Regions from separate parts of the Homo sapiens genome. Here region 1 is linked to region 2. Evidence: fine-mapped expression QTL. A gene starts in region 2. The other region holds a variant in brackets. All regions are shown on one strand. Distances are between the middles of the regions.

What was found.
Region 1: its variant is fine-mapped to the expression of ELOVL6 in fibroblasts (GTEx, PIP 0.97).

What each region holds. Positions count from the first base shown.
Region 1 is chr4:110,161,311-110,169,643 of GRCh38, forward strand. All of the region lies in intron 1 of ELOVL6 (ELOVL fatty acid elongase 6), which reads right to left. Among named protein-coding and RNA genes, the nearest start is that of ELOVL6, 33 kb to the right of the region's middle. The variant G/A (reference allele first, on the strand shown) is at 4,617.
Region 2 is chr4:110,195,112-110,203,444 of GRCh38, forward strand. It overlaps ELOVL6 (ELOVL fatty acid elongase 6), which reads right to left and starts at 3,504. Exons shown (of 4, transcript NM_024090.3): 1 at 3,136-3,504. The coding sequence starts at 3,224. RefSeq lists enhancers at 1,202-1,496, 3,085-3,877 and silencers at 1,231-1,340, 1,541-2,170.

The DNA.
Region 1 (8,333 bases), 34 kb before region 2:
GTGTTCTTAAAGGAAAAAAATATATAGTCAATCCTCATTCACTGATTCTGTATTTGCAAATTCTCCTACTTATGAAAATTTAACCCCAAGTCTATACTGATGGCACTTTCATGGTCATTTTCAAACATGCACAGAGGGATGAAAAATTGGAGTTGCCTGACCTGCACATCCCCAGCTGAGGTGGAGCAAGGTGACACACTGCCTCCTGTTCAGCTCTCATACTGCAAAATAGGTGTCTCTTTTGCAGTCTTATTTAGTTCCATGTCTTTCCAATTTTTGTGCTTTGTGTTGGCAATTTCACGGTTTAAAATGGCTCCCAAGCTTACTGCTATCTCATGTTCCTAAGAACGAGAAGGCTTCAACAGGTCTTACAGAGAAACTACGTATGTTAGATAAGCTTCATTCAGGCATGAGTTAGTGCTGTTGGCTGTGAGTTCCATGTTAAGGAATCAACAATATATGTTAAATAAGGTATTTTAAGCAGAAACACACACAAAACTAGGTTATGTGTTGATCAGAAATATTGTAACCAAAAGCTCTCAGGAAACTAACGCTGTATTTCCCTAAGTGCAAGGGTTCCATATTCACAAGTTCAGTGTTTGCGGTGACTTTACAGAACATATCTACCTGGAATAATGAGAATCTCATTATTTGTAATTGCTTTTGTGCACACAAAACATCTCTGAAGAGCACACTGGCTATCCGCAGGGAGGAGAATTGTGTGGTTGGGGAAAGGGATGTAGTCCTTTATATAAAATACTTTTTCACTGCATACCCTTGTGGAACATTTTAAATTTTATACCATGCCTAGTTTATAATTGTTTTAATCTAAAGTTAAAAAATAAACTAAAAGAATGCTAACAGTAGAAAACTGAGCAAATGATTGAAAGATTACCCATAGTAAAATTAATTATAAAGGTAACAGACAACCAAAATTTTTTCTTAATTTTAGTCAGACTCAGTAAAACTTTAATGTAGTGATTTCAAGAGGCTGTGCTGAACCATTTTGCTGAATATAGACATCTTGTGGGTTGTGGGTTTATTTTATTTTTTGAGACAGGGTCTCAATGTGTTGCCCAGGCTGGAGTGCAGTGGCGCAATCACAGCTCACTGTAGCCTTGAGCTCTTCAGGCTCAGGTGATCCTCCCACCTCAGCCTTCTGAGTTGTTGAGACTACAGGCACATGCCACTATGCCTAATTTTTTTTCTATTTTTTGGATACAGGGTTTTGCTATGTTGCCCAAGCTAGTCTCCAACTCCTAGGCTCATGCAATCCCACCCACCTCAGCCTCCCAAAGTGCTGGGATTACAGGTGTGAACAACTGTGCCAGGCCTGAATATATAGATATTTTGGATGACTGTTTTCCCCAGAAAATTAAAGTTGCCATTTTCCTCCTGCCTCCCTACAGGAGGTTAATGAATGTGCTGAAGTACGCCAAATTTTAAGGTACACAAATGTGATATGCAACATAATAAATTCCACTGTTTACTGAGCTTCTACTACATACTAGTTAATAGACATTATTTAATTAGATTTTCACAACTCTGCAAAGCAGTTATTGGGACACTCATTGATGAAGAGAAAACTGAGTCTTCAGGAGTGAACAATTTACTTGAGGTCACCCAGATAGTCAGTGGTGCAGCTGGGGTTTGAACTAAATGGTCTGTGTCCAAGACTATGTAGGGGAAAATCAGTCCCTGTGAATGAAGAAAGACCCAATCATTTAGATAAAAATAGTACAGAATCACACTGAGAATATATGAACTCCAAACTACAATTCAAATGTGCAATCAATATCTGAGGTATTCAGACACAAAACAGAAAGCAGAAGCCTACTTGGGTGCGAAGCCATACACAGTTCACCTGAGGGGGCTTTGTATTTGTTGTGTCCTATCTGGATCTCTCTTCTCCTAGATGGGCCCAGGGCTAACATGGTCTTCTCATTTGCTACTAGGTCAGATGCCAATCCTTTAGTAAGGCTTTCCCTGACCCCCTAGCTAAAACAGCTCCCTCTGGCCCCAAGTCACCTCCTATCACACTATTTTCTTTATAGCAGTTAGCAACATCTAATGTTATTTTGTCTATATACTTGTTTACATGTTTAGTGTTTGTGTCCTAGTGGTATGAACGGTCTCTGAGAACAGCGGCCTTGTGCCTGGAACAGAGTCTGGCAAATACAGGCTCCTCAATAAATATTCATCAAACTGAGTCACTGAAATTTAACAGTTATGGACTGACCGCATAGTGTAGCAGACTGGGATGAAGGCCAAGTCTTATCATCAATGAGTATAAAATGCTAGAAGGGTGATATACAAGTCACAACTGACTTTAATATGAGAAAATCTACCACTGCCAAATGAAAAGCAAAAATGGAAGAGTTTAAGATTAAAAGTTCAAAACCTTAAAAGGTTGTATGAAGGTGGCAGCACTGAGTTGGGCTTTCTAAGTTTCAGAAATAGAGAAAGAAGAGAGATATTCCAGTGGTTTAATTTGCCAGGGTCATAAGATACTTATAGAGCAATGGGAGAACTAACTGTAAGATCGAATGGTGAGTTAAGGTCAAGGAATCTTCCTTATCAGGTGGGTAAATCTGAGTCATAGTGACAGGCAATTTGGGAGCAATGAAAAGTTCTTAGCCCTGGTTGTGACATGACATTTCTGAATGTGTAATGAGAAGTTCAAAAATGTTGGCTAGGAATTCATTACTCAGTTGAAAGCAAAATAATACTAAAATATCTGCTGAGAGTCATGCCAGTAAAAGCTACTTTTCATGGAGAGCCTAGAAAGTGCTGGACATTTTGTAAGCCATTGACACACCTTAACTAGTTTAATTATTACTACAGCCTAATTTGATTATCTCAATTTCACACTTAGAAATGGGGGCCTAGGGAGGTTAATGAATGTGCTCAAGTTCACCAAGTCATTAAGTAGCAAAGGCAGAATTGAAACTGTGTCTGAATCCACAGGTCCCAGAGTTTGATACACTGCTGCCCTGATGACAAGTTAAGGTGAGGGAAGATGAAGCCAAGGCCACCCTAGGAAAGGAAAAAGTAAAACGGTTTGTATAGCATGAGTATTCTGAGCTAGGCACTAAGGAAACACTTTGACCTAACTCAGCTTTCATAAGTCTGCCACAAGATGCCATGAACATTTGTCACAAGAAAGCAAGCACAGCCGGGTGAGGTGGCTCATGCCTGTAATCCCAGCACTTTGGGAAGCCAAGGCAGAAACAAGCTGAGGCAACGTGGCGAAAGCCCATCTCTACAAAAAATAGAAAAATTAGCCCGGTGTGGTGGCATGCACCTGTAGTCCCAGCTACTCAGGAGGATGAGGTGGGAGGACCGCTTGAGCCCAGGGAGGTCAAGGCTACAATGAGCCATGATCACGCCACTGCACTCCAGCCTGGGTGAAAGTGGGACCCTGTCTCAAAAAAAAAAAAAAAAAGAAAAAAAAAAAAACACTCAGGTTGGAAGGCAGGTGGGTTGGTAGGCTGCTCATTTATTTCTGATGAAAGAATTTCTTGTTTTGGGGAATTTCTTTTTTTTGAGACAGAGTCTCACTCTGTTGCCCAGGTTGGAGTGCAGTAGCACAATCACAGCTCACTACAACCTCTGCCCCCCAGGCTCAAGCAATCCTCCCACCTCAACCTCTCGAGGAGCTGGGACTACACGTGCACCCCACCACACCCAACTAAGAAAGGATTTCCTGAATGTAATGTGGTATGTGGCCTTTCTGTGCATTTAGTCTTTATCATGCCACCCAAATTGTGGTAAACATATAAGCTTGTAGAGCAGGTTTGATCTCTATTCTTCAAAAAGAGGACTGGTTTCTGACTAGCTGGACTAGCAAAACAGACCATTTGCTAGATATCTACAAACTATAAGCAACCCTCTCCATTATCCTCTCACAGAAAACAATACCAGGGCACCTGTTTAGTGGAACCATGTGCTATTGCCATTCATAGGCCAAAATAGTTAAGTATCGACAATTTACAGGAGGCCCTTCCACCATTATGTTCCTGATTTTGTGGTTCCTTCCTGTCTAGCAGACCTACTCCAACTCCTTAGCCTGGCTTCCAAGCTTCCAATCGACCCTCACAACCCAACTTTATTCCTCAAACCCCACATAAACCTTAGTCAGGCCAGGCTGATTCTCCTCTCAGCTACTGCTGCTCATCAAATCCTCCATTTTAATAGCACTGCAAGAAACAGGAGGGATGAGCTCAGGTTGTCTAGCTCAGAGACACAGCAGCCTGCACTTCAGCTTTGTTCTCTGTAGCACATGTGGCTGTGGTAGGCAGGAAGTAGCATGGTCTCAGGAGCTGGGCGGTTCTAATCTCATCTGAATCACACACAGAGATGAGTTAATCACTTCTTTGAGAGTCAGCTTCCTCAACTATAAAATAACAATTATGATGCATTCCTGTCAGAACTAACAGGAGGATTTTTGTAATAAAGTATGTGGAGCTGGCCAGGTAACACCTGCCTTGCAAAACCAAACATTTACCCATGCATTGGAGTGAACCCAAGGCTAATTCCCCAAGGACAATCCTATATCCTCTGCCAGAAGAGTTTAGCACATCTGGGAAGTGGGAAAAGAGGGTGGTCTTTTCCAC[G/A]TAAGAAAACCAGTTAGGCTTCTCTACATCCCTAACAAATTATCAACCCACGATCCTGCTTTCAATACATCTGCCTCCTCTGTCAGTGACAGAGCCTCAGCACTCCTGGGACAGCTTATCAACAAAAGCCCAGCTCAGAGCTGATCTGGAGGAAAGATACTGTCAGCCTTCCCCTGGGTACTATAAATCCCAGCCTGCTATCAAGTGAGATCCTAGAGAAGTTGCTCAAGGCACATTCATTTCGCCCCTGGACTGCAGTGTTCTTTGACATTATATCCCTGATTTTCCTTCAAATGTTGTTGTCTTTGGGCTAGGACCTTGGTTTGTTCTTAACTTACTTGAGCAATAATGAGACATCACCTTTCTTTTCAGATAACAAGAATTCTCTTAAATTCTTGTGTTTCAGCCAGGCGCGGTGGCTCACGCCTGTAATCCCAGCACTTTGGGAGGCCAAGGCAGGTGGATCACGAGGTCAAGAGATCGAGACCATCCCGGCCAACAACCGTGAAACCCCATCTCTACTAAAAATATAAAAATTACCTGGGTGTGGTGGTACGCGCCCTGTAGTCCCAGCTACTAGAAGGGCTAAGGCAGGAGAATCGCTTGAACCCGGGAGGAGGGGTTGTAAATGAGCCGAGATCGCGCCACTGCACTCCAGCCTGGTGACAGTGAAACTCCGTCTCAAAAAAAAGAAAAAATTCTTGTGTTTCCACTTTTGCCCTTGCTGCCAGAAGGCAATGAACACTGCCTGTTAATCTCAGCATGGTCAGCCCTCATGGTTAGCATATAAGACATCATGAGTATTCTGGTGCTACCACCATGAAAGGAAACTCCGTCTTCCTTTTTCATCAACCCAACTATTAGCTCTCAAAGTCCCTGCCTTTTGCTGGAGTGTTTCTAAATTTCTTAGCACATAGTGATTTTCTATACTATAGTTACTATAATACTATATTCCAGCACTGGAATATTTGTTCTTTTTCTGTAGCATTCTACTGTATTTTGCATGTACATCTGCCTTCCTAAACAGACTGTGATCCAAATAAGTTGAAATATATACAGAGGGTCTGTCTGTCTGCCAATGCTAGGACATTGCCTTCTATTTCTTTGTCTTCTCACCTGTCTCCTGCATGTCAGGCACACTCTCATCATTTAGTAATCACCAGCTGACTTGACCCAAGAAGACCAAACAGTCTGAATGCACACAGTAGCTGAAGATCACAGGGTTTCAGTATCTCTCCACTGGCAAAAATATTAGGTGCATTGAGACACACTTCTGGTTCTCAGGAATAAAAACTTTATCCCATCTTCAAAATGTAATCGCTATTAGAGTATTTTTACATGCACAGTAAAAGGACTTGTGTTTTAGTACATACAGCGTTAAGTACTTAACCTTATACTAACTGTAAATATGTCTCTCTCTGTGTGTGTTTACAAATTGGCCTTGTTATTATACATGCTGTTTCATAAGCAGAGTTTTCTGCAACATGTGGTATACATTTTTTTTGTCAAGATATATTCTTCTATAATATAGTTTTAATGGTTACATAAGAGTTACTAAAGGATGTTTTTTTGGTTGCAGAGAGGGGAGTGAAGGGGGAACATTATAAATTTTATTTATTTTCTTGAGGCAGAGTCTCACTCTGTTGCCCAGGCTGGAGTGCAGTGGTGCAATGATCCTCAGCTTCCACAAGTAGCTGGGACTACAGGGTGCCTGCCACCACCTCAGTTATGTATGTATGTATGTATGTATGTATGTATGTATGTATGTATGTATGTATGTATGTTTGTATGTAGAGACAGGGTCTCCCTGTGCTGCTCAGGCTGGTCTCAAACTCCTGGCCTCAAGCCATCCTCCCACCCTGGCCTCCCAAAGTGCTGGGATTACAGGCGTGAGCTGCTGCACCCAACCTCTCTTATGCTTTTGGAGAGAAAAAATAAAACACCTATCTCCATGATTAGGGCTATTCTAACAGTTTGTACAAAACTTTCTGAGGCCTTGAGAGGCAGAAACATATCCAGGCAATTAAGGAAGTTCTTTCTTGTATTTTTGATATATAATTTTAGATTAAATGCTTAATTCCAATTGGAAGGTATAGTTAGAAAACGTCTACTACTTAAGATTAATATTTTAGTGGAAATTTTGTCTTTGTATCAATTTATGAACAGAGCCAAAATTTAAGTGAACATAAAAGAGATTCAATGAAAAAAAGTTAAAACCCTTTGAGAGTAAATCATTTTTAGGTGTATTTTTAGCTTATTGCATGAGAATTATATGGCTATAAATCATTAGAGTAAGGGTCAAATTCAGGCCAGTGTGATGGCTCATGCCTGTAATCCCAGCACTTTGGGAGTCTGAGGTGGGCAGATTGCTGGAAGCCCAGAGTTCGAGACCGGCTTGGGCAACAAGGCGAAACCCCGTCTCTACTAAAAAAATATGCAAAAGTTAGCTAGGCATGGTGTTGCATGCCTGTAATCCCAGCTACTTGGGTGACTGAGGCACAAAAATCACTTGAACCCAGGAGGCAGAGGCTGCTGTGAGCCAAGATCGTGCCATTGTACTCCAGCCTGGGCGACAGAGCAAGACTGTCTAAAAAAGAAAAAAAAAAAAAGTCAAATTCAATGGATGCAATCAGAACTTTTTCAAAAACTGCTCTCACGTGCTTTCATTGTGCAGAGCTCATTTAAACAAAATGAGCCCCACCATATGCTTTTCAAAATATCACCTTTGAAAATGGTTTCTGTAATTTTCCCAGTAGGTGCTGACGTCATAAGCCAAAGCAGGAGAGACCCAGACTCTGTGGACAGGCAGTGTGGACCTAGACTGCCTGGGTTTGAAGCCTCACTCTGCCAATCACCAGGTGTCCCACCTTTTCCAAGTTACTTAACCTCATCTCCAAGACATGCCCAATCACAAAGCCTACTTCATAAAATGGAGGGTTAATTAAATTAATGTTCATGAAGCCTTTAGTGGGTACGTGGTAAGCTCAATGATTATTAGTTAATAATATCCTTATTAAACGTCCAGTAAGTCTTTTTTAAATGTTATTTTCTTTGAGAAAGGGTCTCACTCTGTCACCCAGGCTGGTTTGCAATGGCACCATCATGGCTTACTGTAGCCTAGACCTCTTGGGCTCAAGCAATTCTCCCATCTCAGCCTCCCAAGTTGCTGGGACTGCAGGTGTATGCCACCACACCTGGCTAATTTTTGTATTTTTGGTAGAGACAGGGTCCACCCACCTTGGCCTCCCAAAGTGCTAGAATTACAGGTGTGAGCCACTGCACCCGACCCCAACAGAGTTTTGGGGTTTTTTGTTTTGTTTTTTTTTTTTTGAGACGGAGTCTCGCTCTGCCACCCAGGTTGGAGTGCAGTGGTGCGATCTCGGCTCACTGCAATCTCTACCTCCTGGGTTCAAGTGATTCTCCTGCCTTAGCCTCCCTAGTAGCTGGGACTACAGGTGCCTAACACCATGCCCAGCTAATTTTTGTATTTTTAGTAGAGATGGGATTTCACCATGTTGGCCAGGCTGGCTGGCCTGTAACTCCTGACCTCAGGTGATCCACACACCTCAGCCTCCCAAAGTGCTGGGATTACAGGCGTGAGCCACCATGCCTGGCCAGCCCAATAGAAGTCTTTAAATAAGTATTATTCAGAATTTCTAGAAAACACACTCCAATCATCTTCCATATTAAAACAATGGTGAAGGATTCACGGTGTGT
Region 2 (8,333 bases):
AAAAAGGGAGTGAAAAGAAAATCTGGTTCAAGACTTTTTGTCCTGCATTAGCTGGATTCTATTAAAAATAAAAACTAAAAGCTTTAATTTGAACCTCCCGGGTTCAAGCAATTCTCCTGCCTCAACCTCCCGAGTAGCTGGGATTACAGGCACCCGCCACCACGCTCGGCTAATTTTTTTGTATTTTTAGTAGAGATGGGGTTTCACCATATTGGCCTGGCTGGTCTCGAACTCCTGTCGTCAGGTAATCCACCCACCTCAGCCTCCCAAAGTGCTGGGATTACAGGCAGGAGCCACCACACCCGGCTAATAAAATTAAATTTTAAAAAGTGTTTAAAGTCTTTTTGGCTGTACAGTTTTTGGGGAGGGAGGAGAGATAAAATTGGGCACCCTGGGATATTGGGAGAAATGCACAAAATCTGGCATTTAAAAAAAAACATGAAAGTAAGACAATTAGGGTCAGGAAGAGTTGCAAGGGAGGGGTAACAGCCAGCAGGGTTCTTTGACTGCAATAAGCAATCTAAGAACATAACATCAACAGAGAGCAGAAGCCAGGAAGGGAAAAATCCCAAGATGTGACTCTGCCACGGTATGCAAGTTCTAGCCTGTTAACCTTCGGGTATTAACGAGTAGTGCTGGCAATAAAATGGGCACCAATCACCATTTCAACTCACTGGACATTTTCTCAAGAATGTGCCTTATGCAAAGCACTCTGCTAGGTGCTTTGCAGAATCAAGAGTGGGATGACAAGAACCGTAACCTGAAGAGCTGATGGTCTGTAAGTTAATAACCATGTATATAACAGTAAAGGATATTGCCAGAAGAAAGGTACAGATAAAGAACTAGGAGGAAACAGTGGTCAGAACCTAACAGGAGTAGATACGTTGGCACATTTTTGTCATTTTCAGTCCCACGAGGGCTGAGACCTGTCTGGCTCAGTACTGAGTGAATGGAGAGAAGAGGCGGGAAATGGTACCTGAAGCAGGCCTAGGAAGTGGCCTCAGAGAAAAAGCAACAAGTAAATAAGAGGCAGTATCGACTGCAGTGGGCTAGGAATGGCGGGCGTACAGTGAATGGGGTCAGCCAGCAAAGCGAGGGAAAGCGGACTCCGGAAGAGCAGGTTAAACCAGGACGCAGCAAGTCAGAGATTCGGCACAGAAGCAAATGCTGACCACACTGACCACACAGGCTAATGCGGGAGGACTGTGGGCCCGAACAGGCCGGCTGGAGGATATGACAAACATGTGCGGAGAAGACCCGGGCCCGGGGCTAGCCAGCAGCGCGGTTCCGGCGCCCGCCGGCTCCGGCCACCGCCCCCTCCCCGCCTCCAGCACCACCCCCTAAGCGGGAGGAGGAAGTGCATCCAGAGAAGGACCCCGGGCGGTGGGGCTCGAGGGGCCTCGGCTGCCCCGAAACGCCGAGGTCTATCTGCGGTCTCGACCCTTAGTGTCCAACCTCCTTCCGGACCCACCCCTGCACCCCCTGGCCTCAGCGGCCCGGGAGGGCACCAGCCCTGTGCCTGTGTGGCTGCTGCACTTCCAGTCCTTCCGAGCGGCCCGCGTCCCCGCCTCTTAGGCTCCGGCTCGGGCCAGACGCGGCCCTTGGGCCCCTAGCCCACCGCCGCCACCAGCCACGCCGCAGCTCACCCCAAGCAGGCCTGCCCCGCCGGTGCGCGCGGCCCAGGAGGCGGGCTCCGCCCGGCAGCCGCCGCAAATGGCCATTGGGGCCCGGACCAGCCCGCGGGAAGCTGGGAGTGGGCGCGCTCCGGCCGGGCGGGAGGAGAAGGAAGCGGCGGCCGGGCCTCCCGACACTGGCCGGCGACTCCAGGGGGCTGGAGGACAGGAAGTTGAAACCCCCTTTTCGCAGCTGCGGCCCCGTGGCACCAGCTCCTACTGCACCAACCCGCCCAGGCCACAGGCGCGCCGGCGTTTCTGGTTTCCAGTTGAAGAGGGCAGGCGGGAGGGCGCGGGGCACGCGCGCTCGCGCACGCGGCGGGCGGAATCCCCCGGCTCCCGGGAGACCCTGCGGCCCGACCCTCCCCGGTCAAGCCATCCCCCGGGCTGCCGGCCCCTTGCCTAGCTCCGGGGTGCGTTGGGCTTGAACTTTACAGATCGCCAGACCCGAAGTTAAGGGGAGGAGAGGAATGCCTCTGCCACAACCCTGTCTACAAGAAGCGAGATGAGCACACCCTCCTCTGTTAAATATTGCAAGGTGACACTGGATCGCCTCCCACACAGGGATTTTCAAAAGGTCTGGCGGGGGGACTACAGTAAACAAGAAAGGTGTTTTCCCTGATTATTAGTTTCCTAGGGAAGAGCCCCTAAGGACTCTGCAGACGGAGGGGCTTTTAATCTGTGTGCCTGAACTCCAATCAGCAGCTACGCACAGAATTAGAAGTGTGTCCAAAAGGCGTTTCCGTAAAACAGAAACTTAATAATGGCGTGGCTCCACTCGCTCGGGTTCATTCATTTATTACTGTTTTCATTGTCCCCTCCTCCCTCCCACCCGGTCTCTCTATGAAACCGGAAAGGGAACCGCGTGGGGAAAGGGGTACTAAAAAGGGGGCATCCGCCTGAGGAGCGGCAGACAGAGGAGGACGGTGAAGTAGGAGCGCTGCAAGGAGAAAGGAAGGACACGAGGGATGGAGAGACAGCGAGGACCAGGGCCAAGGGCGGCGGGCGGGAGAGGGTTAAAGGCAACAGGAGACAAGGTCCTCCCTCCACTGCCTTTCACACTCCGGTTGCGGGAGAGGCCAAGCGAGAAAACCCAAATCTAGATGAAAACCGGGGGAGGGGAGGGGAGCACAGGTAGGCGATCTGGACTGTGGCATCTCTCCCGCCTTCCCTGTCGCGCAGACATCACCCTGTGCACACACATATGTTCTGTGTTATATAATCTATATAAAAGATGCCTATGTAGCCGCGGTTCACACAGGGGCACCCACAGACCTCGCGCTTCATGTACCCCCCCCCCCCCAGCGTCTCCTGCACCCGGGAGACCCGAGAACTCAGCGATCAGCTGGCTGCCCGCGATTCATCGCTCCATTCACGCCCAGGCAGGGAATACCGACATTAAGGCACTCCGGGAAGACGCGCAGGGCTCCCGGGAACAGTATCAGGCGAAAGCATCACGTACCAGTTTTCCTGCATCCATTGGATGGCTTCATTCTCGTTGAACTGCTTTTCGAATTCATATTCTTGTAAAGTCAACACTGACATGTTCATTGGGGCTGATCTTCGGAGTCGCTACGTGTTCTCTATACAAAATAAAATAATCTGTAAAGCGCTTGATTTCGAGTGTTCTCCTGTCTGCTTCCCCCACCCACCCCCCTAGGTCTTCCCCACGCCGCTCGGTCTCCAGCGGTCGTCTCTTCTCCCAGCCTCTCAGCTACATCCAGGGCTGAGCATTGCCTGCGCCTCCGCTCCCAGCTCCTCTCTCTGGGGCTCTCCTCCTCCCGGCGTCCGCATCCACCGTAGGAGGAAATGAATGCCTTGCGGTCTTAGTGCCCGCACGTTTGTCCATCACCCTTTTTACTCGTCTACAGGGAAATCTCCTCCCCCTCGTGCGATTTGAGAAATTAACCCTTGGCGAGGGAGTGTGCGAAAGAGCGCGACCTCTCTCCGCCCGGGGGGGACAGTTTTGTTTACAGCGAAGGTGGTTGGAAGAGTGGGGGAAGGGCGCAGAGAGAAAGGAAGTGGCCTGGAGGTCATCCAGATCCCCTAAGCCCAACCTCGTGGGCCGCCTTGCTTTGAATGAAGTTTCAGCTTGCAGGGCGCATCCCCGCGGCGCGTGGACCCGAGAGCTTGGCGAGTAAACGATTGGGAAATAGTAAAACCTGCCAGCTCTCTTGCAAGAGAACTCCGGGCAAATCTACGTTGAGATCACCAGTGAAGGGAATACGCTTCCCACCTCCTCGCCCTACCTCTGGGACCACCCCCACCCCTACCCCCACCCCCACCCGGGAGCTCTGGCTTAGATTCACGCTAACCCAGGCCCTGCGGACGGCAGAGCTCCTTAATCTCGTACAGACAGGGGATGCTGAGTGTGAGGATAGTGGATAGGCGAGAGAGGCTAGTAGCCGGAAGTGGAAGAAAGGGCTGGGTTAGGTGGAGGGTTTAGGTACCGGGAAGGGGGGGATTAATGAACAGAGGCAGAGTGGGGAAGGAAGCTGACAGGAGAACTGGACCGACTGGCCAAATGCAAAAACTTTATTTGCATGCATGAGAAATTTGGCTTTACTTGCTGTACTTGTAGGTAGAACAGAATATGTGAGGAGAGGGCTGAATGTACTGTTGACCCCTACTGGGCCCTCAGCCTCCAAGAGGAAAAACTATTTTCTATTCCATCCATCCCTCCACTCATTTCCCCCAAGAGTTTGGAAAAATGAAATATGAGACATGGAAGTATCTAATGATGTAATTGTAAACTTTACAAAATAATAAGGAGCCCTGCTTTTAAAAATTAGGTGGATATTAGGACCAGAAAGAAAATTCCCCTTCTGAGAACATCCCCCCACCTCCCCAGTAGTCCAAAAAGGGTACTTTCATTCAATTTAGATGCCTCTAACCCACAAAAAGTGGGAACTGGGAGAAAAATTTTTAAAGGAGGAAGGGACCGGCCGCGGTGGTGGCTCACAGAAGTAATCCCAGCACTTTGGGAGGCCGAGGTGGGCGGATCACCTGAGGTCAGGAGTTCAAAACAGCCTGGCCAACATGGTGAAACTCCGTCTCTACTAAAAATATAAAAATCAGGCAGGCGTGGTGGCGGGCACCTGTAACCTCAGCTACTCAGGAGGCTGAGGCAGGAGAATCGCTTGAACCCGTGAGGTAGAGGTTGCAGTGAGCCAAAATTCTGCCACTGCACTCCAGCCTGGGCGACAGAGGGAGACTCTGTCTCCAAACAAACAAACAAAAAAAAAAAAGAGGAAGGTCTAATGAGAAAGTAAAGAAATAATTTTTAAAATCCAGTACAATATATAGATTAAAGGGCTAGCCTAGTTGATTAGCAAATTAATGTATACATTGACACTGCCAAAGATTCTGTGTAGGGACTGTCCTCATCTCCCCCATTAAGGGTTGTCTTTCTTTTTTCTTTTTCTTTTTTTTTTTGAGATGGAGGAGTCTCGCCCTGTTGCCCAGGCTGGAGTGCAGTGGTGCAAACTCGGCTCACTGCAACCTCCGCCTCCCAGGTTCAAATGGTTCTCTTGCCTCAGCCTCCCCAGTAGCTGGGATTATAGGCAAGCACCACCACGCCCGCCTAATTTTTGTGTTTTTAGTAGAGATGGGGTTTCACCATGTTGGCCAGGCTGGCTGTGATCCACCTGTCTCAGCCTCCCAAAGTTCTGGGATTACAGGCATGAGCCACCATGCCCAGCCAAGGGTTGTCTTTCTAGAGACCTCTACAGTACAAGTCTACGTCACTTTGAAGTAAGGCCCAGGCCAAAACTCTTGGCAAGATTGGGCTGGAAGATAGGTGTGGCCAGATAAGAAAGAACCATTTTAGCACGGTGCCTGAGCCTGTGAATAATCAATAAATATTTGTAAAGTGAATGATTCATCAAATAAATTAAGGTAAGAAGTGAGAAAGGAATCAAGACAGAAAATCCACTTTGGGTGGCTGAGGCAAGACAATTGCTAGAGACCAGACTGGGCAACATAGTGAGGCTCCATCTCTACAAAAAATTAAAAATTAGCCAGGTGTGGTGGTACATGCCTGTAATCCCAGTTACTCTGGAGGCTGAGATGGGAGGATAGCTTGAGCCTGGGAGGTCAAGGCTGCAGTGAGCCATGATCACACCACTGCAGTCCGGCTTGGGTGACAGAGTGAGACCTTATCTCAAAAACAAACAAGCACTGTCAGTGACTTTGAAAACTGGTGACTCTGTATGGAAAGCAATTTGGCAGCCTATATGATAATTTCATTTATTTTTTAGAGATGGGGACTTGTTATGTTTTCCACGCTAGGACTATAGGCACCCAGCATATATCACAATTTTAAATCCACACCATTAATTCACCAGAATTATTTTTTTTTTTGAGATGATGTCTCCCTCTGTTGCCCAGGCTGGAGTGCAGTGGCGCGATCTCGGCTCACTGCAACCTTTGCCTCCTGGGATCAAGTGAGTCTCCTGTCTCAGCCTTCCAAGTAGCTGGGATTACAGGAATGTGCCACCATGCCCAGCTAATTTTTGTATTTTTAGTACAGACAGGGTTTCACCATGTTGGCCAGGACGGTCTTGAACCCCTGACATCAGGTGATCTGCCTGCCTCAGTCTCCCAAAGTGCTAGGATTATAGGCGTGAGCCATCGCACTTGGCCTACCAGATATATTTTGAGTACATACTCATCTGAGCTCTTGGGACTCACAAATGAGACAAACAGGGCTCTTGCGCACTTGGAGCTTACATTCCAGAAGGGAAGACAAAATAATTTCTTAGAGAATGAAATGCTAGGATTACAATTTAACAGCATGACATGAAGGCCTGGGAGTGCTCATTTAAACCTGGAAGGCCTCAGGGAGAAGGACTTTGAGTTGAGACCCCGCTGGCAAAGAGCCAGCCACCTCTTGCAGAAGTGTTACAAAGAAGAATGAGCAAGTACAAAGGCTCCTAGGAAAAGAATAAATTTGCGGGATTGAGGACAAAAGGCTGGTGTGGCTTCAGGCCATCAGTAAGGAGTAATTGAAAGAAACAGGTTGAAGAGACAGGCAGGGGTCAGATCTTGGCCACAGGTAAATCAAGATAAGGTGTTTAGATTTTATTCTCAACTGCAGTGGAGTGGAGGAGGATAAAAGAATGTTAAACCGAATAATAGCATGATAATTCCTAGTAAATTCACTGCTATGGATATACTCACCGAAACATTCCGGATATATGTCTAAGATATTCAGCATTGGGCTGGCATTATGCTTGTAATCCCAGCACTTTGGGAGGGCGAGGTGGGCTGATTGCTGGAGCCCAGGAGTTCAAGCCCAGCCTGGGCAAGATGGTGAAAACCTGTGTCTACAAAAAAAAAAAATACAAAAACATTAGCTGAGCATGGTGGCATGTGTCTATATTCCCAGCTACTCAGCAGGCTGAAGTGGGAAGATCACCTGAGCCTGGGGAGGTCAAGGCTGGAGTGAGCCATGATTGCGCCACTGCACTCCAGCCCGAATGACAGAGTGAGACCTTGTCTCAAAAAATGACAACACCAACAAAGAAAACCCCCACAAATATATTCAGCACTGTTTATAATAAAACACTGAAAATAATAGTTTAAGGGATAATTGGAAGGACAGCCAAGAAAGGAATGAGGTCAATAGACTCAAGTCAATGTGATTCATTGTCAGTCCTGGTGGGCTACCTCTTGACAAAAGCAGAGGAGGCAGCCCCGCTTACAGGCTATATAGCAAGGTTTTATAGGGCATATAACTGGGTCAGGGTGAAGGAAAAAGAAAAGGCCAGGGAGTAGGGGATCCTTTGTGCCAGGTGTCTGACCGCTTCCTGGAGTTGTTTTTCTTGCCAGTTCTGTTGTGTAAGGTAGACTTCTTGACCGCATCCTGGAACAGCTGGCCTCGGGTCCGACAGTTACAGGTGGGGCTTTGGGGCTTAGGTCTATGGGAGCGGGAAACAGTCCAGTTGGGTGGACCCTAACATTCCAGCCTTTTAACAGATGATAGAGAAGGGGCATTGATTTCATCAGACTGCTTCAGGCTGAGAGTGGGCAGGGGCTAGGGGAAAGGCTGGAAAGTGGAGGTTGGCTTTGGTTTTGAAAGTGTTGATACTCCTGGAGTAACATCATGACCTGTATGGTTCCATGGGCAAAGGCATGGATACGATTCTGCAAAAACTGGGTGAAGAGGAGTATTAGGCAAGGACCTAAGATTAGGAGGAGAAAAAGGATTACAGCAGGTCCAAGGAGAGAGGGTAGCCAGGCGGCCCAGGTGCTGAGAGATCAAGAGGGCCACGTAGAGGAGCTGCTTTCCCTGATCTTTTGGGCTCGATCTTTGAGATTTTGTTTGTTTGTTTGTTTGTTTTTTACTGCATCCTGAACTAAGCCTGACTGGTTAAAATAAAAGCAGCATTCTTCATCTAGGAAAATGCAGAATCCTCCTTTGTCGGTGGTAAGTAGGTTGAGACCTCTCTGATTTTGTAAGGCGACTGCCGCTAGGGAGTCCAGCTGAGCTTGTAAGGGGATATGGAAGTTGCAAGGTTGTCTATACCATCTGAAAGGTCTTTTGATAAGGTTTTATGGTAATAAGAGGAGGTTGCGATTCCTGCTACCCCTGTACCTGCGGCCACTGTGATGCCTAGGTCTACAAATAGTGGGATAAGTTGTATGGCCTGGCGCCTG